7 linked regions of the Homo sapiens genome follow. The protein of the gene in region 6 purifies or fractionates together with the protein of the main gene of each other region. This does not show direct contact. Each region holds a gene or a part of one and is shown on either strand. Other genes may lie near its edges.

Region 1 (3,500 bases), on a different chromosome or scaffold from region 6:
CCAAGCTGCGCATCCTATGCTACTTCCAGAGACTCAGCATACATGATAGCATCCTGAAGGGCCCGAGACGGCCGGCAGCTGACACACCTATTTCTCTTCAACCTCACATTTCTCAAACTTCTCTGGCCACAATCCTATTATTTTATATATATACATATACACTTTCTTTTGTTTTGGGGTTTTTTACTTTTTTTTTTAAGAGATAAGGTCTTACTCTGTCACCAGGTTAGAGTGCAGTGGCATGATCATAGCTCACTGCAACCTTGAACTATCAGGCTCTGGCGATCCTCCTGCCTCAGCCTCCCAAGTAGCTAGGACTACAGGCGCACACCACCACGTCAGGCTAATTTAAAAATTTTTTTGTAGAAATGGACATCTCTCTATGTTGCCCAGGCTGGTCTCAAACTCCTGGGCTCAGGCAATCCTCCCACCTCAGCCTCCCAAAGTGCTGGGATTACAGATGTAAGCCACTGCACCTGGCCTACATGATCTCTTGACACCCCACAAAATTAATGTTCCTCGAAAAGTTTTCAAAATGCTCCCAGAAGCAGTCTTCTCCTTTCCCTAAACTAAAAGAAAAGAAAAAAGACTAAGAAGCCCTCTATAATACTCTACCCCAACAAAAAATAACATTTCTTCCAGCAGATCTTCACTGTAACTTAAAAATTAGAGTGAGCTCGCTGGGGACGAGAGAGGTTAGTGGGATGAAGCTGACTTACCAGCCGGAGAGGGGTTCAGAGTTCGGGGCTCCGGGTCCGTATCACTGGGTTCAGAGATGCTTGCCCGCCTCACACGGACTCGGCTCTGAGGTTGGTGGAGGGAAGAAGTTCTGTGAAAGCCAAGCCTCCAGCCCTGCCATCCACGGCTGGCCATCCAACCTATCAAAGAAACCTTGACCACGTGCAAGCACAGTTCCTACCATTCCCTGCCCACTGTAGCCCAGAGTCCCCGGAGAGACACCCAACCGCAGGCACAAGGCAGCGGAGGACGCTGCTTACCTTAACCTTATGAAGCAGGGGCTGGGTCACAACACCCCCTGAGGAGAGGCTGTCACTCAGGTCAGGGCCACCTGAGGTTTCAGGAGTACTCCCCACTGGCCAGGGCAAAGGTGGGCCCATGGGGCTGAGCCCCAAGGATGTGTGAGTCTGGCACGTGACGACAGGAAGGAGAGAGAGGTTGGAGCCTGGGAGCACCTCTGCCTTGCCCAAGCCAGCCAAAAGGCGGGACCCTACTTTCCACTGACCAGGAAGACCCTGTCACCAGCCAGCCCTCTGTTCTCTCCCCAGCGCCCTCCCTTCGTGTCTTCCCCCAACAGTCCTCGCCCCCCAACCACACCGACCTGAAAATCTGTCAGTGACAAGACCTTGCCATCGAGAAGGAACTGAGCAAAGACAAAAAGGGGGAGGGAGTATGTGGTAGGCCCATCCTGCTGAGCTCCAGGTATTAAGAACACAGTAAGCAGGGTCCAGGTCCTTGGCCCCTCACCCAGGGATGGCAAGAGGGTGCAAGGTGGGGGAGGACTGGGCAGGAAAGGGGAAGAAGAGTGGACACAGGACGATCACTCACGCCAGTAGCAGCATCCCTGGCCCGGGGTGACAAGTACTGGGCAGTGGCTGCTCGGTGCTCAGGGTGGAACCAAAGAGGGTTCCCCTCCAGGTAGAGCTGAGGGGCAGGAAGGGGAGAATGAGGAGGGCCTGGGGCCCTGGCCCTCCCTGTGTGAAGAAGGCACTGACCAAACCAGCATGGGGGGGTACGTGCAAGGGTGGTTCCCAGGCCCCTGATGCATTCCCATCTCACCTTGCGGAGCTCAGCCAGCAGCCACAGTGGTGACAGCTCCCGGTGTCCTTCCAGCAGGTTGTATGCCAAATCCAGGTGCCGCAGATTCCTCAGCTGCTCTAGGCCTGGGGTGGACGCAAGAAGGAAGGAAGAGCATGTGGATGAGTACACGCAAGTGAGTGTGGTGCATGCACTGGGGGAGGTTGCAGCAGAAAGACCGGCCAGAGCACCCCTGCACTCCCCATAAGCCCTCTCAAGGCTCTAGAGGCACATGGTCCCCAGGCCAGCCCCAGCCTCACTCTCCCCCTTCCCCTCCATGCTTGCCCCATCACACACCCCCACTCACCATGCAGGCTCCGAAGCTCATTGCCTCGCAGTATCAGGACCCCCAGAGCAGCCCCTGAGGGTCCCATTCTTGGCACCAAATGCAGGCGATTATAGGAGATGTCCAGATGGTGGAGCTCACACAAATCCTGGCAGGGGTACAGGGGAGAAAAAGATTATCTCGTTGACCAAACTCTAGCCAGGGTCCTCTGAGACCTCTTCTGGACTAGGCCTCAACCTTGGCCTATATAAAACTGCACACACTCAGCACAAATGATTTCATCCACCCCTACTCCCACGTTAAAAGACTTGAACAACACCAGCACTGTTCCTAACAGTTCAAGGCCACACCCTGAGCATGGCAACTCCAAGCCCCTTAAATTCCTGCCTGGGAAAAGTCAAAGCTGCCAAAAGAATTTCCCATTTGTTTCAGCCAACTCCTGAAGATAGGGCCCCGTCTCCCAGTCTCTGTGAAAGGGTAAGGGCCTTATTTTGGTAAGTGCCAGTTAGTTAGCAAACTCAGATGGGTTTCATGTGGACCAACCTGATTTCCACTCCCCCAGCTCTGCTCAAGGCCCTACCATTCCCCTGCCCACTCCCCGCCGCCCTCTTTTAAAATGCCCAGCCGGCCAGGTGCAGTGGCTCATGCCTGTAATCCCAGCACTCTGGGAGGCCAAAGAGGGGGGATCACTTGAGGCCAGGAGTTCGAGACTCACCTGGCCAACATTGTGAAACCCCGTCTCTACTAAAAATACAAAAATTAGCTGGGCGTGGTGGCACACACTTGTAATCCCAGCTACTTGGGAGGCTGAGGCAGGAGAATCGCTTGAACCCGGGAGGCAGAGGTTACGGTGAGCCAAGATCGTGCCATTGCACTCCAGCCTGGGCAACAAGAGCGAAACTCTGTCTCATTAAAAAAAAAAAAAGGAAAAAAGTCCACTGACACTTCTGTATCTTCCAGGCTCTGTTCAGGGAAATAACCGTGACTGCAACACTGTCTATGCTATCACCACAAACATTCAAACTACAAACGAAGAAATCCATCGGTTGCCACTGCTATCCTCATTCCACCATCTAAAGAAACATAGAGCTCAACACCTAGAAATCTCAACTGGCTGCCCTCTGGACTCAGAAAATGGATTTATAGTCTGCTCCAACCATTCATCTTTGTTTCCCTTTTTGTTTCCATAGAAATGTCCCCCATTAAATGCCTGGTCACTCTCACCATCCAGCAAAATTCATCCACTACCAAGTCCCAATAAATGGCTCAGTTGGTTTTTAGTGAACAAAAGGTGATCAAGGAAGAAAAGGATTTATATTGTTCAGGGGAAAGAGGAGTGTCTCTTCTTTCCCTGAATTAGAGGAGGTTCTCACCTTGATCAAACCCTACTCAGGCTCCT
Region 2 (3,500 bases), on a different chromosome or scaffold from region 6:
CAGTGCCCACTAACCCCCCACCTCTTCTCCAGCACAGGTAGACCCTGAATTCAGGGGCCAATGCTTGACCTGCTCTAGTCTATGAATGAGATGTTACATAAATCCCAAGGCATGCTGTCAGATACTAGGGAGAAGGAGAGAAACACCACCTTTAAATTCCTCCCTCTCCACCCCTGGGAGCAATGCAGCTACGTACCACCACCACAAAAGAATAGCCACTTGGCCGCGCGGTGGCTCACGCCTGTAATCCTAGCACTTTGGGAGGCCGAGGTGGGCAGATCACTAGGTCAAGAGATCAAGACCATCCTGGACAACATGGTGAAACCCCGTCTCTACTAAAAGCACAAAAATTAGCTGGTTGTCGTGGCACACACCTGTAGTCGCAGCTACTCAGGAGGCTGAGGCAGAAGAATCGCTTGAACCTGGGAGGTGGAGGTTGCAGTGAGCCAAGATCAGGCCACTGTACTCCAGCCTGGCAACAGAGCGAGACTGTTTAAAAAAAAAAAAAAAAAAAAAAAAAGGCCACTGATCACAACAGCTATCCTTATCATTTTGGGATCATTCCAGGAGGAAAAAGGAAAAATGGGCAGGCAAGGGGAGGTGAAGCCAACTTACCTACAACAAGGAGATCACACAAGGAGATCAGGGATGAGTATGGCGGGAAGTATGGGGGGAAGCACCTGTTTCATATTAAATATATCCTGATTGATAAGGGGGTTGCCTTATAATGTCTTTAAAACATGAAATACTGAAGCTTTCTACATCCATCCCAACATAAGTGTTTATTACTCATAGGTATTTAAATATCATTGATCTAATCTTGTACACATTGGATTTCTCTCATATTATACATTAATTTCAGCAATTCTAGAATTAGTGCAACATGACATGGGACATTTTAAATTCTTTTTTTCGAGACAGAGTCTCGTTCTGTTGCCCAGGCTGGAGTGCAGTGACACGATCTCGGCTCACTGCAACCTTTGCCTCCCAGGTTCAAGCAATTCTCCTGCCTCAGCCTCCTGAGTAGCTGGGACTACAGACATAAGCCACCATGCCTGGCTAATTTTCATATTTTTAGTAGAGATGGGGTTTCACCATGTTGACCAGGCTGGGTCAGGTCAAACTCCTGACCTCAGGTGACCCGCCCGCCTCAGCCTCCCAAAGTGCTGGGATTACAGGCATGAGCCACCGCGCCCCGCCTGACATTTTAAATTTTCAAGCAGTTACTCTCCAGCAGGAAAAACAATACAGAAGTACAGAAGGGAAGCAGAAACACTCCTCTCTTCCTTCTCCCACCCTAAGCCCCAGGGCACTCTCTTGCCGCAGGCTTCATATCAATACAGCACTAAAATCGTCATTTGTGTATTGCCTGTGATAACAATTACACTTGAATCCCAAATTGAAATTATTAACAATTAAAAGGTGAGGTAGAATCAAAGAAAAAAAATCCATAGAATGAAAAACTTAGAATGAACTTGTTGTGGATTAAATCATGTTCCCCAAAAGATATGCTGAAGACGTAACTCCGGTACCTGTGAACTTAACCTTATTCAGAAAGTGGGTCTATGCAGATGTGATGAAGTAAAGATGAGGTCAGGTTAGAGGAGGGCAGGCCCTAATCTAATGACTGGTCTCCTTATAAGAAGAGAGGAATTTGGCCACAGAAACTTACATGGAGGGGAGAGATTGGAGTCATGCGGCCAAGGGTCAAGAAATGCCAGCAGCCATCAGACACTAAGAAGAGGGAAGGAAGGATCCTCCCCCAGAGCCTCCGGAGGGACAGTGTTTCTGCTGTCGCCTTGCTTTTTGAACTCTGGCCTGCAGAATTATGAGAACAAGTTTCTATTGTTTTGAGACCAGGACATTAATGCAGAAATTTGATTCTCCACAGCTGAGGAAAGGGAAGATGAGGGAGGTTACACACTTGCTCCTGGTCACAGGTGTGACACTACAGTGCTCAGGACCTGTAATCACATCAGGATGCTTCCTGTCAAACCACATCATCTCCAGAAGCATGAAGATGGTTCTTCTTAAAAAGTTACTGTAACTAAAACACTGCACCTAAGGAGGAACGGCAGTGACGTGCAAAGACTGAGCTGGGCTGACCCAGATTGACAGCTCCACCCTGCTTTGCCTTCACTAGTGTGGCCCTGGACAAACTACTCTGCCTCTCCAAGCCTCGGTTACCCTGTCTGAAAATTAAGTCACATTGTTGTGCACATTTTCCAGGACGTTGCAAGGATACAATGAGGTGAGCCACGCACAGGGCTTCACGTGCCCTTTGAGTGTCCAACACTCCATCAGCAAGAAATCAAGGTCAGCTCTTGATCTTATAAACTATTTCTCAGACTCCTGTCCCTCCTTGTTGTTTCAAGCTGATTTCTTGGCTCACCTTTCCCAGTCCTCTGTAATACAGTCTTTGATGAATTCTTTCTCTAAAGCCCAGAAGCTGCCACTTCTCACTCGAAGGAGCTGGTGGCAAACTGGCTTTGACTTTCTTGTTCTTTCAACCTCAGTAATTGTTTTTTCTCATTGTCTTTAATAGTTTACCATTTCAAGTGGCTCCATCAGATTTCTTCTTGCTGGGATTGCCTTCTTGTTTTCAGCCTCACCTACAGTCAGCTTCATTTGGGGAGCCTGGATGGCTTCTTCTGAAGAACACAAACTCTTATTGCATATGCTGGATCCATATTTTCAATACAAGTCTTCCAAATAATTGTGTACTAAGAGGCTGATAATCAAGTGAATGCACCATGATTAAAATAGGATTCGCCAAAATAATTAGGTGGCCCTTTACATTCAAGTGTTCAGGTATGAGAATAGTTTTGCTGTCTGCTTTACCTATGTTAGTGGAGATGACAGAAAATCTTTCAGAAAAAGAATCCCAAAGGCTTTTTTTGAAGCTACTACAAGGTATATGGCTGCACACCTTCTCCTGTCTTCAGCTGGAGTTATTGTGTTAACATGAAAGTCTCTTTTTTCATAATAGAAATTGCTGTAATTATAATTACTTTAGAAGAGTGTTATTATTAATAAGACCAAATTGCACGGTTCAAGCAGGTGCTGGTTGAAAGAACTGTTCAAAAGTTCTACAGTTCGAAAGAACCCACATAATGGGATCAGCCGCAAACCTGGCAGTCATCTCCATGCCAACGTGGCCCTGCCTGCCAGCACACACGCCTTGCAGCTCTCAGGCGGGCTTCCGGGCACATGCCTGTGACTCCTCACAGAGTCACTGGGCTTTAAACAATGGACCTCTAGTTCCTGATTAAAGCCTTCGGGGAACAAGCACACTTCCAACAGTTGACTTTCCCATAAAAGAAGGGGAGCTGGAGGGCTCTGGTTCCTGTTGAACCTCTCCTCTCAAGGCCTCTCCCGTGCACACCTGGATCCAGCCCTTCATTCTGTTGCTCATTCAGCAGTGCTGAAGGAAAGAGGAGATGGGGGAACAGCACGGAGTTCCGGAGGGTCCAGTTGCAGTCATACAATAAGTCCCTAAC
Region 3 (3,500 bases), on a different chromosome or scaffold from region 6:
TCTCTCCTTCAAGTAGTGTAGGGTTAATCTCTCTTAGTGCTTTGTAGCTTAAACTAAGTGACTGAGAACAGTCTGTCTGCCTCAGGAATCGTACTCATCAGAGATGGACTCCTTCATTTCTTTCCTTGTAGAAAAGTAAATCCACTTTTATTTTCATATAAAAAGAATAATGAAGGCTGGGTGCAGTGACTCATGCCTGTAATCCCAGCACTTTGGGAGGCCGAGGAGGGTGGATCACCTGAGGTCAGGAGTTCGGGACCAGCCTGACCAACATGATGAAACCCCATCTCTCCTAAAAATACAAAATTAGCTGGACCTGGTGGTGCATGCCTGTAATCTCAGCTACTTGGGAGGCTGAGGCAGGAGGGTTGCTTAAACCTGGGAGATAGAGGTTGCAGTGAGCTGAGATTGCGCCGTTGCACTCCAACCTGGGCAACAAGAGCAAAACTCTGTCTCAAAATACATAAATAAATAAAAGGAATAATGAAAGGTGAGAATAATGAGAATTTTTTTTAACCTAAATGCTAGAGAAATGGTGATATGTGCTCTGCTCTGAGTCAGTAGTTTATGCAAATGCTCCATCGTAGATAAGTCAGATAATTATGGAGGAAGCTGCATTATTTGTATTCATTTGTAGACTAATTCTTAGGTGTTTGTATAATTTCTGAATACATTTTAAAGCAAAAAAAACCATATATTTGATTAATGGAAACTAAATATAATGAAAATTGAAATGTAATGATGTTTTATGTTATTGTCTTTCAAGAATATCCCAATTCCAACCCTAAAAGATTTTGCAAAGGCTTTGGAAACCAACACACATGTGAAATGTTTCAGTCTTGCAGCCACCCGGAGCAATGACCCTGTTGCTACTGTAAGTAAGCGACTTGAGAATATCAAAATTATGACATGCCCAGGGTGTGTTACAGTGGTGATTTTTATGAACAAGATTTACCCCTTTTTTATAGTTAATGTTTTAGCTCACTATTAGGCAGTATATTACTTACCAGCTTTTTGTGTTTATTTTTTCCTGTATTTCCTTCCTATGAATTTTTTCCCCCTCCCAGCTTCCCCCTCCTTCCTATGAATTTTTTAAAACATAAATGGAATCATGTAGTATATGCTGTTCTGCAACTTGATTTTTCACTCTGCAGTTTATCTTTAAAGTTTTGTTGTATCAATACATAGGGATCTACCACATTATTTTAACATCTTCAGAGGATTCCATTTATGGATCCTTAGTGGTGGATTTTTGTTAAATGCTTTTGCTGTGTCTCTTGAGATGTTCATATGGTTTTTGTCCTTTATTCTGTCAATGTGGTGTATTGATTGACTTTTATATGTTGAACCAGCCTTTCATTCCTGAGATAAATCCCACTTGATCATGGTATAAACCTTTTGTTTCATTGGCTTTGAGAATATCACTCACTCCCTTGGGGGCTCCCCTTACCTCAGTGGACATTCCTTCTCAAAGCCCTGTACTGGTTTCTCCATATCTCTTCAACTTCTAAATATTGGAATGGCCCAGAACGTGGTCCTTCTTTTCTCAGTCTACACTGACTTTCTGGGTAATCTCAGAAATATATATATTATCTTCATATACTTGCTGATGACTCCCAGTGTTATTATCTACAGTTTGTATCTCTCTCCTGAACTCCGTATTCATGTCCAGCTACCTCCTCAGCAGCTTTACTTGGATGTCTAATGGACATCTTACATGTAAGTCCTCAAACTCCTGACTTCCATCCTGTGCCTGCTTTTCTCTGCTGTTTTCTATCTTACTAAATGCAATTTCAATCTTTCATTGCTCAGGCAAACAAAAAAAAAAAATTTTTTTTTTTTTTTTTTTTGAGACAGCGTCTCACTCTGTTGCCCCGGCTAGAGTGCAGTGGCGCAATCTCGGCTCACTGCAACCTCCGCCTCCCGGGTTCAAGCGATTCTCCTGCCTCAGCCTCCTGAGTAGCTGGGATTACAGGCATGCGCCACCACGCCTGGCTAATTTTTGTATTTATAGTAGAGATGTGGTTTCACCATATTGGCCAGGCTGGTCTCGAGCTCCTGACCTTGTGATCCGCCCACCTCAACCTCCCAAAGTGCTAGGATTACAGGCGTGAGCCACCACGCCCAGCAAAAAAAAAAAAAAAAACAAAAAACTAATGGAATCATTCTCGACATCCCTTTCTTGCAACTTAAACCTACCTTTGGCCCTATCTTCAAAATATTTCAGAATCCAACCACTTCTCACCATTTTCACAACTACCACCTTGACCCAAGCCACCATCTTTTCCCACCTGGATTATTGCAACAGCCTCCTAATTGGGTTACCTTCATCTATTTTACCTACCCCAAAGTCAGTTCTTTACATAGCACCAAGAGTGATTCTTTTAAAACTTAAGTTAAATGACCTCATTCCTATTCGGATAACCCTCTAGCAGCTTCCCATCTCATTAAGAGTAAAAATAAAAATCTTTCAGTGGCCTTATAAGGCTTCACATGAGTGGACTTCATCTCATTTACTTGCCCTTTCTTTCATTCTACTCTAGCCATACAGCCTTCTTCAGCATGCCATGTGGACTCCCAAATCAGGGCCTGTACATTTGTTCCTTCTGCCTTGAACTTTCTTCCTAAAATAATCCACTTAGCTTTGTCTTATCACTTTGACTCTTTGCTCAAATGTCACCTTCTAGTTGAGGCTTTTCCTGACCGTGCTATATAAAATACCAACCCCATTCCCACCCCCAGTATTCCCCATCTACCCTATTGTGCCTTTTTTCTTTTTACCCTCTAACATTGCACTTTGCTTACTTTTATTATCTGTGTCCCTCCCCAGCTAGAATGAACATTCTGCCAGGCAGGGACCAATGTGTTTTATCTCTGAATCTCTAGGACAGTGCTAATCAAATAATAGACCATCAGTAATATTCGAATACATGTATGGATAAGGGATTTGTTCCAGGTCACATAGCTAGTTGTTGCTAATAGAAAGGACAAGTATGTAGATACCAGCCACAGTTTTTTTAGTATCTCTACGCCCTATTGCCTTTCCTTTAACTTTAAGCTTGGTCTTACCCATATTTTCTGTAGTTTAACCTTGCTTTTGATCCCTCTAAGGGGCTGTTTTATATAAACTCATGATCATTGTTCTTTTTTCTCTCTCTTTCCTTCCCCTCCTTCCTTCCCTTCTTCTCTCTTCCTACCTCTGTCTCTTTTTCTTTCCTTCCCAGTCTCCCTCCTCTTTCTTTTTTCACTTGTAGGCTTCTGTTAATTAATCAATATGGTACTTATTAAGCACTGAGTCAAATGTCTAACACTGTACTGTATCCTATGAGAAATGAAATAGAAGCAGATTGAAGACATACCATTACTTGAGGAATTTAATATTTTATTAGCCCCTTCTTCTCAATGGCCTTTGTGCTCTTCTGGTTCTGGTTATCTGTGTTCTTTTCTGGCCTTCTGCCTTGACCATTTCTTTTGGCCCCTGCCTTGGAAATTAGTACATA
Region 4 (4,287 bases), on a different chromosome or scaffold from region 6:
GGTATGCTACAGAGAGCCACAGAGTAATTACACACACACACACACACACACACACACACACCTGCAGCATTGCTAGTCTGCTACAGTCACATGGCAATTTCCCAGAAAAGTTATCCAGACACATGCATGTGTGCACACAGACACAGAGCTGCAGAGGGTCACAGAAACATACAGCAACCCACAGAAAGTCCCGGATAAATTATATTCACACACATAGCCACGAGGAAGTCTCAGCAAAGAGCCAAAGACAGCCATACAGTGAAAGACCAGTCCCAAAAGACCCCAGGTGACACATACATAGTCCCAGGTAAATCAGGTCCCACGGTCAGCCAACACATCCCCACTGAGTTGTTCCCGTGCCCGCACTGGGCTCACCATCTGGCAGGGAAGACAGAGAAAAGGCTACTTCTAAAGTGGCAAGGGGCTGGGCGCAGTGGCTGATGCCTGTAATCCCAGCACTTTGGGAGGCCGAGGCGGGTGGATCACCTGAGGTTAGGAGTTTGAGACCAGCCTGGCCAACATGGTGAAACCCCATCTCTACTAAAAATACAAAAATTAGCCAGGTGTGGTGGCACGCACCTGTAATCCCAGCTACTAGGGAGGCTGAGGCAGAAGAATCGCTTGAACCCAGGAGGCAGAGGTTGCAGTGAGCCGAGATCGTGCCACTGCAGTCCAGCCTGGGCGACAGAGCGAGACTGCGTCTAAAAGAAAGAGAAAAAGGAAAAGAAAAAGTAAAGTGGCAAGGGGTGGAGGTGTCAGTGGCTGTAGCTGGTGGAGAGCCCTGATGCTCACAGTCAAGCAGGACTTGGGAATAATGCAGCCGAGCAGGGCGTGGATCTCGAGGACACAGTGGCCAGGTAGTGGAATAATGCGTGGCACATGCTATACTAACTGTAACAGGTGGACAACGTCAGTTATCATTATTGCCTCCAAAGTGCCCTGGGTACTCCCAGGGTCTTAGAAGGGAGGGTTCCAAGCCTACAGAGAGCCACAAGGGGTCTCACACTGTTCACACACACACAAAACCACAGAGGGTCTCAGCTGTACACAGAGAGGCCTAGGCACCACTCAATACTGTCACAAAGGAATACACAAGGGAATGTTCACACAAAGATGGAATCAAATTAAGTTACAGCCACACTCACAGAGCCCCAGACACACAACAATGTCACAAATGTAACTTACATTGGCACACAGAGCTAAATGAGAGTTTCAAGCCAGGCGCGATGGCTTAAGCCTGTAATCCCAGCACTTTGGGAGGCCGAGGTGGGTGGATCACCTGAGGTCAGGAGTTCGAGATCAGCCTGGCCAACATGGTGAAACCCCATCTCTACTAAAAATACAAAACTTAGCCAGGCGTGGTGGCACACGCCTGTAATCCCAGCTACTCAGGAGGCTGAGGCAGGAGAATTGCTTGAACCCAGCAGGAGGAGGTTGCAGTGGGCCGAGATCGTGCCACTGCACTCTAGCCTGGGCGACAGAGCCAGACTCTATTTCAAAAGAAAAAAAAAAAAAGAAGAGCGTTTCAGAGCTAAATTACAGGCATATGCAGGCACAGAGGGTCATGGTAGAACCCAGAGCCCCAGGCACACTTGTACACACACCACTAAGTCACAATGGGACGCACACTGGTAACTTACAGCAACGCTTGGAGCTACAGATAGAATTAATGGTAAAACACACACAGCCCAAGAAGGATCAGAGCTGCTACACACGGTAACTCCAGACACATGTACAAACACTCCAACGTCACACTCAGACACACAGGGGTAATTTATATTTGCACAGGGAGCTACAGATGGAATGAGACACAACACGCACACAACCAGCTGCTCACAGCCACAGATTTGGAGCCCCAGACACACACAGGTAACTTACAGTGACACACAGAGCCGCGGTCAGAATTAGTGGTTAAGTTACACGCAGGAACTCTATCAGAGGCCCAAAGCTGCTGCAGGCTAGCAGCCCCAGACACACGTACACACACTTGCAAGACAATTCACAGTCGGAAGCACATGCGCCCACCTGGACCGGAAGGGGAGTAAGAAGTCAATTCCGAGCACACAGGACCCCCCGCCCTCCATGACCTCAAGCACGCGGTCCTGGAGAGACGCAGGAAGCCCCCACCCCCGGCAGCCCCGAGACCCGCAACAGCCAAGGACGGTGGGAGGGGGCCCAGGCAGGAGGGGGCTGCCTACTCCCGGCGCGCCCAGGGCTCCGCGGCCTGTGGGCCTGGGCTGGTCCCGATCCTGTCTCCATCCCAGGCCGGAGCCCCAGTTCGGCCTCGCGCTCACCCCTGGCTTACCAGGCAGGGGGTTGCCAGGCCTGAGGGCCCTCCCCGCCAGATGAACCCGCGGGCCCCCAGCCAAACCCCGCAACCCAGTGCGTCGCGGGCCGGCAGTGGCGACCCAGACCCCGGGCCCTGCCCTGCGTCCGCGCCCCACTCCCCAGCTGCACCCCTCGCCCGGGGGCCCCCTGCCCCGCCCCCACCCCGATCGCCCCGGCCAGAGCCATGTGCAGAGGCCCCCGACCTCTGCAGCGGCCGCTCCGCCCCCTCCCCAAGCCCGCGGCGCCCCCTCCCTCCGGTGGCCTCCCCCGCGCGCCCGGTCCCTGAGCTCTAGTCGCCCGGTCCTTACTCGAACATGGATGCGGCGCGGTGGGCGCGCCCCGGGCGCAGGGCAGGGCAGGGCAGGGCAGGGCTGGGCTGCGCGGGGCTGGGCTGCGCTGGGCGTCCCCGCAGGGCACCGGCCTGGCCTTCCGCGGCCGCCGCCCCCACCCGACCCAACCGCCCGCACAAAAGGCCGGAGCCGCCGGAGGCCGCCGCGGCGTCAGCGACACCCCCTTCCTTCCCCCGCCCCGCCGCGTCACGGCGCCGCCCCCAGCCCGGGAGGGAAGGCGGGGAGGGGCCGCAGAGGCCTAGAAGGAGGGAGAAGCCGGGGAGAGAGGGACTGGACAGAGAAGGGAAAGCAGAGGGGCAGAGAGACAGAGAAGGAAACAAAGAGACTTTATTAAAACCAAACATCGTGGAGGCAGCTGCCTGCCCGCAGGTTGGGGAGCCCCCTCCCCTAGTACCTAGAAAAGGGTCCCTAGCAACTACTATGCCCCTGGCCAGAAGCTCCTGGACCTCCCAGGGAGGAACCTGAGAGCCGGGGCGAAGGTGGGGGAGGACTGGAGATGCTGGGAAACCGAGGTGTATGTATGGGGGAGGGGGCCTGAAGCTGGCGGGAAGGGGTGGGGCCGGTTGGCCGCCTCCTCCTTCCCTCTCCCAGTCTCTGAGCCCGGGTTCCTGGTCCCAGGAGGTCCGGTGCCTCCGTTTCTAGGGACTTCCCAGTTTTGGTCAGCCAGGCCAAGTACCAAGTCAGAATCCAGCCTCCCTGGCTCTTATCTGTGCTGAGACCTTGCGCTCATCACCCCAGTGCTGGGAGTCCCACTAACTCGGTGGTAAGGGCTTTTCCCGGGGACAGCGCAGGAACGGGCAAAATCAGTCCTTTTACGGAAGGAGAAGCCCGGCCTCTAAGATGGGAAGTGACTTGTTGGGGTCACCTGGTAGGTAGGCGGCAGAGTTGGATTCGATCCTGCTCTGACGCCATAACCTGCGTCCCCCCTCCCCCGCCCCGTCTGCAAGAGGTCAGAGTCAGGTGGTGTCCTGGACTCCTGGCCCAACCACACAGAAATGCGAGTCCCACCTCACAGCTCCGGGGCTGTGGCTCCCCAGCGCTCTCCAGGGTACGCTGTCCCCGCCTCTTTTGAAAAAACTCCCTTCCCAACCCTCTCCATCAACCCTTCCCCTCCTCCTGCAAAAGAAGCCCACCTGACTTCTCCATTTTGATGAATGGCAGGCCCAGAACTTCAGAGTCTTTTCTGACCCTCTCTTTTCCTTCACACCACATCCAATCCGTCACAAACTGTGGGCTCCACGTATAAAATCAATCGCTCCATTCTAAACTCTTCTTCCTCCGCTGCCCACGCCCTGGCCCAGCCTCCATCCTCTCCTGCCTGATCTCCCTGCTCCCATCCCTGCCCCTACTGTCTGTTCTCACCTGCAGCCAGAGAGAGCCTGGGACCACCTGAGTCAGTTAACTACCCTCCTGGCTCAGAGCCCTGCCCCAGCTGTACCTCACTCCAGGTAAAAGCAAAGTCCTCACCTTGGCACCCAAGGCCCCTGTCAGCTCTCTGACTTCAGCTCCTCATCTCCCCCTGGCTCACACCCCCCATCCAGCCTACCCGCTGTTCTTCTAACTCACCAGGCACCTTCCTGCCTCCTACCCCAAGACCTTTGCACTGGTT
Region 5 (3,034 bases), on a different chromosome or scaffold from region 6:
ACCTTTATTATTTTTTTTCTTTTTCCTCTCTGTTTTTCTTACCCCCTGTTTTCCTTTCTTTCTTCTCATATTTGATGGATCCTTTTCCATTGCCCTTCTTTCTGGCTGCTGCCAATCTTGGGCTTTTCCTATTTCACCCACCATCCACCCACCAAATCTTCCCTTCCCTTTGGTCTGCACTCAGGTGACGGGCCTCTTCAACATTACATCGCTGTCTCCAGCCCCACCAACACCACTTATGTTGTACAGTATGCCTTGGCAAATTTGACTGGCACAGTGGTCAACCTCACCCGAGAGCAGTGCCAGGATCCAAGTAAAGTCCCAAGTGAAAACAAGGATGTGAGTGGTGGTGGGTGTTGGAAGTGCCCTGGGGCCCCTTTCCCTTGGGAAAGTTGGAGGTTCTTCTAGACCTAGTTAGACCCAGGGGATTGGGATGGAGAGGTGGAGAGATGCAGTCCTCAGCAATTGGGTGTTGAAAAGCCTGGGTGAAAATGGACCATCTGAAGGGTAAAGGGACAGCAGCCAGTTAGCTCAATTGGTTAGAGCATGGCACTGATAGAGGGTAGAGGGAACGAGTGAGAAGAGGATCACCCTAGCCGTGTGTTGTGGCGCATCTTCTGTGCAGCTGTATGAGTACTCATGGGTCCAGGGCCCTTTGCATTCTAATGAGACGGACCGACTCCCCCGGTGTGTGCGTTCTACTGCACGATTAGCCAGGGCCTTGTCTCCTGCCTTTGAACTGAGTCAGTGGAGCTCTACTGAATACTCTACATGGACTGAGAGCCGCTGGAAAGATATCCGTGCCCGGATATTTCTCATCGCCAGCAAAGAGCTTGAGGTGAGATGGGGCAGGGGCATAGGTGGCAGGGATCTGTTTGACTTCTTTCTCTGCTTTCTTGTGTCATATAGCCCTTTCCATCTCCCATTTGCCCCACATTTGTAGCAAAAGCCTACTGCAAATCTGTCCCTGGTCAGCCAGCATGTTCCCTTAGGAGGCCTTTTTTTTGAGATGGAGTTTCATTCTTGTTGCTCAAGCTGGAGTGCAATGGCACAATCTCAGCTTACTGCAACCTCCGTCCCTTGGGTTTAAGCAGTTCTCCTGCCTCAGCCTTTCGAGTAGCTGGGATTACAGGCATGTGTCACCACACCCAGCTAATTTTTTTTTATTTTTAGTAGAGATGGGTTTCACCATGTTGGTCAGGCTAGTCTTAAACTCCTGACCTCAGGTGATCCACCTTTCTTGGCCTCCCAAAGTGCTGGGATTATAGGCGTGAGCCACTGCACCCGGCCAGGAGGCCTTTCTTCACAGATAGTTTGAGTAGGTGTTCATTCTGGAGAGCCCCTGTGGATCCCAGAACTCTTTCACAGCTTCAACTCCCGGCTGGCATTCCCCATCTGGCACAGCTGGGATGAGTCAGTCTAATGTACCGAGCTCCTGTCACAAGTCAGTAATGTAAGTGCCGCAAGGGAACCAAAGCCATGGGCCCTCCTTTCAAAATGCCTAAAATCTAAGTAATACAAGATGGAAGCAAGAACAGAGATGCTTTACTTCTCTTTTCAAATGGGGAGACAAAGTCTGTAGGCTGGAGAGATGTTGCCCATGATTATTCCATAGTTGGTGCTTAGAGCCAGCATCCGAATTCCCATGGCTCCAAACCCCAAACAGTTATCCAAAAAACTGCACTGAGTTCTGAGAATGCCTTTGTCCTTTCCTGCCCTCCCTCCCCCTGCAGTTGATCACCCTGACAGTGGGCTTCGGCATCCTCATCTTCTCCCTCATCGTCACCTACTGCATCAATGCCAAAGCTGATGTCCTTTTCATTGCTCCCCGGGAGCCAGGAGCTGTGTCATACTGAGGAGGACCCCAGCTTTTCTTGCCAGCTCAGCAGTTCACTTCCTAGAGCATCTGTCCCACTGGGACACAACCACTAATTTGTCACTGGAACCTCCCTGGGCCTGTCTCAGATTGGGATTAACATAAAAGAGTGGAACTATCCAAAAGAGACAGGGAGAAATAAATAAATTGCCTCCCTTCCTCCGCTCCCCTTTCCCATCACCCCTTCCCCATTTCCTCTTCCTTCTCTACTCATGCCAGATTTTGGGATTACAAATAGAAGCTTCTTGCTCCTGTTTAACTCCCTAGTTACCCACCCTAATTTGCCCTTCAGGACCCTTCTACTTTTTCCTTCCTGCCCTGTACCTCTCTCTGCTCCTCACCCCCACCCCTGTACCCAGCCACCTTCCTGACTGGGAAGGACATAAAAGGTTTAATGTCAGGGTCAAACTACATTGAGCCCCTGAGGACAGGGGCATCTCTGGGCTGAGCCTACTGTCTCCTTCCCACTGTCCTTTCTCCAGGCCCTCAGATGGCACATTAGGGTGGGCGTGCTGCGGGTGGGTATCCCACCTCCAGCCCACAGTGCTCAGTTGTACTTTTTATTAAGCTGTAATATCTATTTTTGTTTTTGTCTTTTTCCTTTATTCTTTTTGTAAATATATATATAATGAGTTTCATTAAAATAGATTATCCCACACGACTTGTACTGCTAGTTATTCTTCCCAGGCCACCTTGTTCAGCGAGCCTAGACTGGAAGTCATGAAGTTATCTTTTATGCTATCATCTTGGGCTCCAGAGGACCCAAGGAGTAAGGCTCTGTCAAAAACAGTTGAAGTCCTTTCAAATTGCAGAGCCCTGGTTCTCCTCTTGTAAGAACAATGTTAACATAGTTTCTTCTCACTTTGTAATGAACGGGCATTTTTTTTTTTTTTTTTTTTTTTTTTTTTTTTTGAGATGGAGTCTTGCTCTGTCACCCAGGCTGGAGTGCAGTGGCGCGATCTCGGCTCACTGCAAGCTCCACCTCCCGGGTTCACGCCATTCTCTTGCCTCAGCTTCCCAAGTAGCTGGGACTACAGGCACCCACCACCACGCCCAGCTAATTTTTTTTGTATTTTTAGTAGAGACGGAGTTTCACCATGTTAGCCAGGATGGTCGTGACCTCCTGACCTTGTGATCCACCCACCTCGACCTCCCAAA
Region 6 (3,500 bases):
ATGATGGTTTCCAGTTTCATCCAAGTCCCTACAAAGGACATGAACTCATCATTTTTTATGGCTGCAGAGTATTCCATGGTGTGTATGTGCCACATTTTCTTAATCCAGTCTATCGTTGTTGGACATTTAGGTTGGTTCCAAGTCTTTGCTATTGTGAATAGTGCCGCTATAAACATACGTGTGCATGTGTCTTTATAGCAGCATGATTTATAATCCTTTGGGTATATACCCAGTAATGGGATGGCTGGGTCAAATGGTATTTCTAGTTCTAGATGTACTATGAGTTATGTAAGTTGTATCATCGGGGAAACTGGGTTAAGGATACACATAAATTCTACCATTTTGCAACTTTTTGGTTAAGTCTACAATTATTTCAAAATAAAAAGTAAAAAAAGTACTGTCCTAAATTAAGATGCAAATATCTAAAAGGACTATAGTACTCCATTTAATTAGATTTGAATCTGATTTCGCTCATTTGACTCTGACTTTTTTTTTTTTTTTTTTTTTTTTGGTGAGACACAGTCTCGCACTGTCGCCAGGGCTGTTTGCAATGGACTCCTGACCTCATGATTCTCCTGCCTTGGCCTCCTAAAGTGCTGGGATTACAGGTGTGAGCCACTGAGCCTGGCCTTGACTCTGACTTTCTAAAGAATGAGTGGCCGGCTGGGCACGGTGGCTTACTCCTGTAATCCCAGCACTCTGGGAGGCCAAGGCGGGCAGATCACCTGAGGTCAGGAGTTGGAGATCAGCCTGGCCAACACGGTGAAACCCCGTCTCTACTAAAAATACAAAAATTAGTCAGGCATGCAGGCATGGTGGCGGATGCCTGTAATCCCAGCTACTCAGGAGGCTGATGCAGGGGAATTGCTTAAACCTGGGAGGTGGAGGTTGCAGTGAGCTGAGATCACACCACTGCACTTCAGCCTGGGCGACAAGAGTGAGACTCAGTCTCCAAAAAAAAAAAGAATCAGTGGCTAATGCACAGTGCTTTAAATCACACATCATTTTGAATAAATCAGTAAAATTCATTTCAGATGTTGCAGTGTTAAACAGAACTTTGATGGTTTACTATAGAATAGCTGTAGGACACAATAATCCATGCAATGGTATTCATGGAGGTATTTGTTTCTTGTCCTAAGTAACCAAGCTCTGACAAATGAAAGCTCAAAGTGCCAGTGGGCAATTTTGCTCTTTTTGCCCTGGATGACAAACAAAACTGCTTACCTGTAGCACCACACTGCAAAAAATGCTCCAAAAAACACAAGCAAAAACGCCATGTAGGTGATCCACATGATGACATACATGGCGTCCAAGCCAAGGATCGTCCAGGGAGCAGGAGGAGGTGGGGGCTGGGGCTTGGGGCCACAGACAATAGAGCAGTCTTGGCAGCTACATGGTGCTGTGACCTCATCCACAGACTCGTCACAGCCTTTGGTGGCATTGTTCATGGGCTCCATCCCATGGACTGGAAAATCTACAGAAAGGAATTGTGTTGAGTACAAATCTCAATTAAAAACATCCAAAATTTTGTATTATACTTAAACTCAAAGAAAAGCCCACTGAAATACATAAAACAACTGAAAGAAGAAAAAGAATTGGAGGTTTTAGTTTAATTAAATTATGTTTTGCTGCTTCGTCCTATGGAATTTTAAGTTACCTCAATAAACTTGCGCGTAGGGGTTTGTCACTGATAGAGGAATCCTCCAAGTACACCACATACCAAGGCAACCCTTCAATCATGTCCCATCTCCATTCTCAGGAGCTAATACTATAGCAGAGCTCTAGAAAAGCTGCCTCCCACCCCCTTTTTAACTGCTTATTCTTTCAATTATGACAGCAATGCCTGAAGGCAATTCATTTCCTCCTCCATTCCCACTCCCAGCACCCCCTAAATTAGCCACAGCAGGATAAATGTACCAGTTACCTCTCTTACTGGGAGAAACTATGAACTAGTTACCTGAATGTGTTTATCTTCCTATTGTAGATTATGCTTCCTCAACTAAGATTCATTCATTCATTCATGGAGAGACAGGGCTTTGCCCTCACCAAGGTTGGAGTACAATGGGATGATCGTAACTCACTGCAGCCTTGAACTCCTGGACCCACGCAATCCTCCTGCCTCAGCCTCCCAAGTAGCTGGGACTACAGATGCATGCCACCACACCTGGCTAATGTTTAATTCTTTCATAGAGATGGGGCCTCACTACATTGCCCAGGCTGGTCTGGAACTCCTGGTCTTAAGCAATTCTCTTGCCTCAGTCTCCCCAAGCACTGGTGAGCCACTGTGCCCAGCCAGTTCCTTGGCTTTAAAACAATATCATAAACACACCAAACTTGGAATCTTTATACCTACCTGAAAACACAGGAGTGATGGTAAAAGGTGCCTGTCCATTGTCCTTATTGAACATGTATTCAATCCAGTTGGTGGCATTACAGGCGTCAGCGTCCTTCCCACACAGGAGTCCCAGGGCCTTGTCATTACTTGAGGGGGCCTCCACATCCCGGCAGGCATTGTACATTGCTAGAAGAGGAAACCCAAAGGAAAAAGGAGACAAGATGCTTGCTGTAATTCACGAGGCAAGATCTTACAAAAGGCCTCTTGAAGGGAAACACGAACTCCATATGCACCATGCTGGAATGCTGGACAGCAAACACTAACTAAGGGCACGAACAGAGATTCCCTTTAAATTGGCTTATCACCCTGCAAATAATATGGAGGCCCGATTCCAAGTAACTTAAAAGTAAAAAACAGACAGGAAAGGGAAAGGCACACGTTATCTCATAGCTCTCACAACAGCTTGGAGAAGTCAAATCCCCACTATATAGAAGAGTATACCAAGGCCCAGGAAGACGCAGCTAAGAGCCTCAGTACTTCTTCAGTTAACAAAGCTGGTTCCAGAAAACCTCTGCCGCAGGAAGCTACACAGCCAGAGAATTATGGAACTTACTTGGAAAACTGGTTTTAGAGCAGAGGTCACGTGTCAATAAACCTAATACTGTTGGCCGGGCACGGTGGCTCACACCTGTAATTCCAGCACTCTGGGAGGCCGAGGTGGGCGGACCACCAGGTCAGGAGATGGAGACCAACCTGGCTAACACAGTGAAACCCCATCTCTACTGAAAATACAAAAAATTAGCCGGGCGTGGTGGCGGACGCCTGTAGTCCCAGCTACTCGGGAGGCTGAGGCGGGAGAATGGCATGAACCCGGGAGGCAGAGCTTGAAGTGAGCCAAGATTGCGCCACTGCACTCCAGCGTGGGTGACAGAGCAAGACTCCATCACAAAAAAACAAAAAAAAAAAACAAAAAAAACCCCTAATACTGTTATCTTTTTGGATTTTATTTTCTTACACATACACACAACACATTATATAAGGATAGTATCAGTGTATTACACCTAAGAAAATAGCTGGAATGGGTCCTGTACTGTCGATTCTCATTTACCAGTCTCTGCTTGCTAGAAACTTCCCAGGATCTTCTTTCCCTAATCTTCAAGGAGAT
Region 7 (2,653 bases), on a different chromosome or scaffold from region 6:
GACTTCATATCATTAACTTAAGAATTTCCTCAGGTATTAAAGAGGTCAGTGAACATGACCTCTGAAGTCCTTTGAAGGTTTAATATTCTAGCAATTTCTTTGTTGGAATCAGTTTTCTATTTCACCTGCTACAGAAAACTCAACTGGCCTGTGGTACAATATACCTAGTATGGTTTGGCAACCTGGTAGCTAACCTATAACAGATTAATCAGAACTTTCTGAAAACATTTTAAAGAACAGTTCAACAGAGTTTCCTGTTAACTACTACTTTTCTTTAGTCTGACACACCTGAAGTGCTAATAACACCAAATTAGTCTTTTAACACATTGCCCCAGATTTCATTTCCTGTTATTATCTTTGTGATTTTTTAAAAATGAAGAACTATATTGTTTGCCCATATTAAATAACTTTTATAGCTATGAAACTCGTCATGTCTTGTTGCTGTGGTACAAATATAATCTGAAAAATTTTATGAAAATATTTAATGAGGCTTTTTAGCATTTTTTTCAAAATAGGGATTTATTATAAAAACTATACAAACTTTTTATCACTCACAAATGATGAAAAATTTTAAACAATTAGTATCCTCCCTCCAAAATAGTGTGTTCTGTCTTTACAGTCTTCACTGGCAGTGCATTCAGATAGTATAGAAAATAACAAACATTCCATATAACTTTGTCCCTACAGTAAATAATTTTTTAAAACTTTTCATCAAGTTTCAGTGTTACTGAAGTTAATTATAGACAGTAAGGATTACAGAATAAGCAGTAAATGGTCACCTGCACTGTATTTTTCAAAGCAAAAATTGTTTTATATTTTCTATGTTGTTTTATCCTGCCCCAAACACTTAAAGCAAAAGTTAAATATTTTTCCAGTTACCTGAAACTTCAAAAATCTATTGTACTTTGAAAAAACTTTAAAAAGCAGCATCATTTAAATAGTGGTTAACTCATAAACGTGTATGCAACAACATTCCACAACCCTAATACCACTCAGGCCTGCAGAGTCACCAGCTCACAATAATTCAGTGCTCTGAAAGCTGGGGGGAAAGCCCCTGAGTAGTAAGTATGCAACCCAGGGTGTCGGGTGCTTTCTTGTGGTGAAACAAGGGTGTCAAAACTGAGGGGACTCTCCAAGGTCCTAATGAAAAGCAGCTCCTCTAAACACCTGAATCCTTTTTGACTCCATTCTCATCACTTTAAGGATGAAGCCTTTCTGTACAAAGGCTTTGTACAGAAATTATTAAAAACTATATTTTACACTAATGCTAACAGCTAATTGAGCAGAAAGAACTATGAAGTACAAATTTTTCTAAGGTTTTCTTATTAATGGCAATACAGACTTTTTTTTTTTTTGAGACGGAGTCTCGCTCTGTTGCCCAGGGTGGAGTGCAGTGGCGTGATCTTGGCTCACTGCAACCTCTGCCTCCTGGGTTCAAGCGATTCTCCTGCCTCAGCCTCCCGAGTAGCTGGGATTACAGGCACCTGCCACAATACCCAGCTAATTTTTGTATTTTTAGTAGAGACAGGGTGTAGTAGTATATATTCTACTATACTATAGTAGAGACCACTATGTTGGCCAGGCTGGTCTCGAACTCCTGACCCCAGGTGATCCACCCGCCTCGACCTCCCAAAATGCTGGGATTACAGGTTTGAGCCACCGCACCTGGTCGGCAATATAGATTAAGGTGGGGGTTATTTCCTAAAAACAAAAGTAATCCATATGTCATCTAATGCAGTTAAATTAAAGATCACCTGTTGACACTATTTGAAAAGGCCTTGAAAAAAAAAAGGGGGCCATTATTTGGAATATAAATCACCCTTATAAAATTCTATTATCTATATAAATTGGCCTATTTTCAAATAATAATTTAGCTATTTCAATTACCATTTTAAGCAATAAAAGGCAAAAACAAAGGGAACCTACTGAATTGTACACTTAAACATGAATAAGAAGGTAAATTTCATGTGTATTTTATCACAACTTAAAAATTTTAAAAAATACTGAAAAAAAAACAAAGGGTAACTTTTGGATAATGTATGATACTAAGAAGGGCATGCAACTAAGTAATCAGACTGCTTTTAGTAAGAAAATAAGTTTTTTTTTTTTTTAATTTCTCGAGACAGGGTCTCTGTCACCCAAGCTGGAGTGCAGTGACACAATCAAGGCTCACTGTAGCCTCAATCTTCAGGGCTCCAGGGATCCTCCCATCTCAGTCTCCTTGGGAGCTGGGAGTAGGCATGTGCCACCATGCCTGGCTAATTTTTTAATTTTTTTGTAGAGATGGGGTCTTGTCATGTTGCCCATGTCGGTCTCAAACTCCTGGGCTCAAGCGATACTCCCACCTTGGCTTCCCAGTATTGGGATTACAGGTGTGAGCCACCATGTCTGGCTTGCTTCTCTTTTTGTATTCTAAAATTCAAAGGCCTAAGTATCAAATCCCTAAATCTCCAAATACTGTCACAGATAAAGACTCAATAATAAACTCCCTCCGAAAGTTTAGACAGGCTCAGGTGAGAGACTTGTTTCAAGGGGTTATAAAAAGAAACACCAGTGCTCTGCAGAAGAATCAGTTTTTAATTTTTTTAATGTATCTATTTAATGGAATAAGTTGATCATAGATTTGTAAACCAAAAGGTAATTTCTCAAGTAT

The links.
Region 1: the proteins of NPC1 (region 6) and STK11IP purify together in Homo sapiens (affinity purification with mass spectrometry, with the first as the bait; one large-scale study listed by BioGRID). This does not show direct contact.
Region 2: the proteins of NPC1 (region 6) and BACE2 purify together in Homo sapiens (affinity purification with mass spectrometry, with the first as the bait; one large-scale study listed by BioGRID). This does not show direct contact.
Region 3: the proteins of NPC1 (region 6) and TMOD3 purify together in Homo sapiens (affinity purification with mass spectrometry; 2 studies listed by BioGRID, with this or other methods). This does not show direct contact.
Region 4: the proteins of NPC1 (region 6) and GRAMD1A purify together in Homo sapiens (affinity purification with mass spectrometry, with the first as the bait; one large-scale study listed by BioGRID). This does not show direct contact.
Region 5: the proteins of NPC1 (region 6) and NCSTN purify together in Homo sapiens (affinity purification with mass spectrometry, with the first as the bait; one large-scale study listed by BioGRID). This does not show direct contact.
Region 7: the proteins of NPC1 (region 6) and TM7SF3 purify together in Homo sapiens (affinity purification with mass spectrometry, with the first as the bait; one large-scale study listed by BioGRID). This does not show direct contact.

What each region holds. Positions count from the first base shown.
Region 1 is NC_000002.12:219,604,357-219,607,856, reverse strand, and holds part of STK11IP (serine/threonine-protein kinase 11-interacting protein), read right to left. Parts: intron 2,250-3,500; coding exon 2,123-2,249; intron 1,902-2,122; coding exon 1,798-1,901; intron 1,663-1,797; coding exon 1,567-1,662; intron 1,382-1,566; coding exon 1,340-1,381; intron 1,146-1,339; coding exon 999-1,145; intron 879-998; exon of another isoform or gene 874-878; coding exon of another isoform or gene 805-873; coding exon 720-804; intron 1-719. UniProt on the Homo sapiens protein: May regulate STK11/LKB1 function by controlling its subcellular localization.
Region 2 is NC_000021.9:41,171,160-41,174,659, reverse strand, and holds part of BACE2 (beta-secretase 2 isoform A preproprotein), read right to left. Parts: intron 1-3,500. UniProt on the Homo sapiens protein: Responsible for the proteolytic processing of the amyloid precursor protein (APP).
Region 3 is NC_000015.10:51,895,653-51,899,152, forward strand, and holds part of TMOD3 (tropomodulin-3), read left to right. Parts: intron 1-766; coding exon 767-874; intron 875-3,500. UniProt on the Homo sapiens protein: Blocks the elongation and depolymerization of the actin filaments at the pointed end. The Tmod/TM complex contributes to the formation of the short actin protofilament, which in turn defines the geometry of the membrane skeleton.
Region 4 is NC_000019.10:34,998,836-35,003,122, reverse strand, and holds the start of GRAMD1A (protein Aster-A), read right to left. Parts: upstream 2,801-4,287; 5' UTR 2,645-2,800; coding exon 2,637-2,644; intron 1,990-2,636; exon of another isoform or gene 1,879-1,989; intron 1-1,878. UniProt on the Homo sapiens protein: Cholesterol transporter that mediates non-vesicular transport of cholesterol from the plasma membrane (PM) to the endoplasmic reticulum (ER).
Region 5 is NC_000001.11:160,356,416-160,359,449, forward strand, and holds the end of NCSTN (nicastrin isoform 1 precursor), read left to right. Parts: intron 1-184; coding exon 185-339; intron 340-625; coding exon 626-838; intron 839-1,733; coding exon 1,734-1,856; 3' UTR 1,857-2,534; downstream 2,535-3,034. UniProt on the Homo sapiens protein: Essential subunit of the gamma-secretase complex, an endoprotease complex that catalyzes the intramembrane cleavage of integral membrane proteins such as Notch receptors and APP (amyloid-beta precursor protein).
Region 6 is NC_000018.10:23,559,007-23,562,506, forward strand, and holds part of NPC1 (NPC intracellular cholesterol transporter 1 precursor), read right to left. Parts: intron 2,522-3,500; coding exon 2,354-2,521; intron 1,475-2,353; coding exon 1,225-1,474; intron 1-1,224. UniProt on the Homo sapiens protein: Intracellular cholesterol transporter which acts in concert with NPC2 and plays an important role in the egress of cholesterol from the endosomal/lysosomal compartment.
Region 7 is NC_000012.12:26,971,079-26,973,731, forward strand, and holds the end of TM7SF3 (transmembrane 7 superfamily member 3 precursor), read right to left. Parts: 3' UTR 501-2,653; downstream 1-500. UniProt on the Homo sapiens protein: Involved in the inhibition of cytokine-induced death of pancreatic beta cells. Involved in the promotion of insulin secretion from pancreatic beta cells.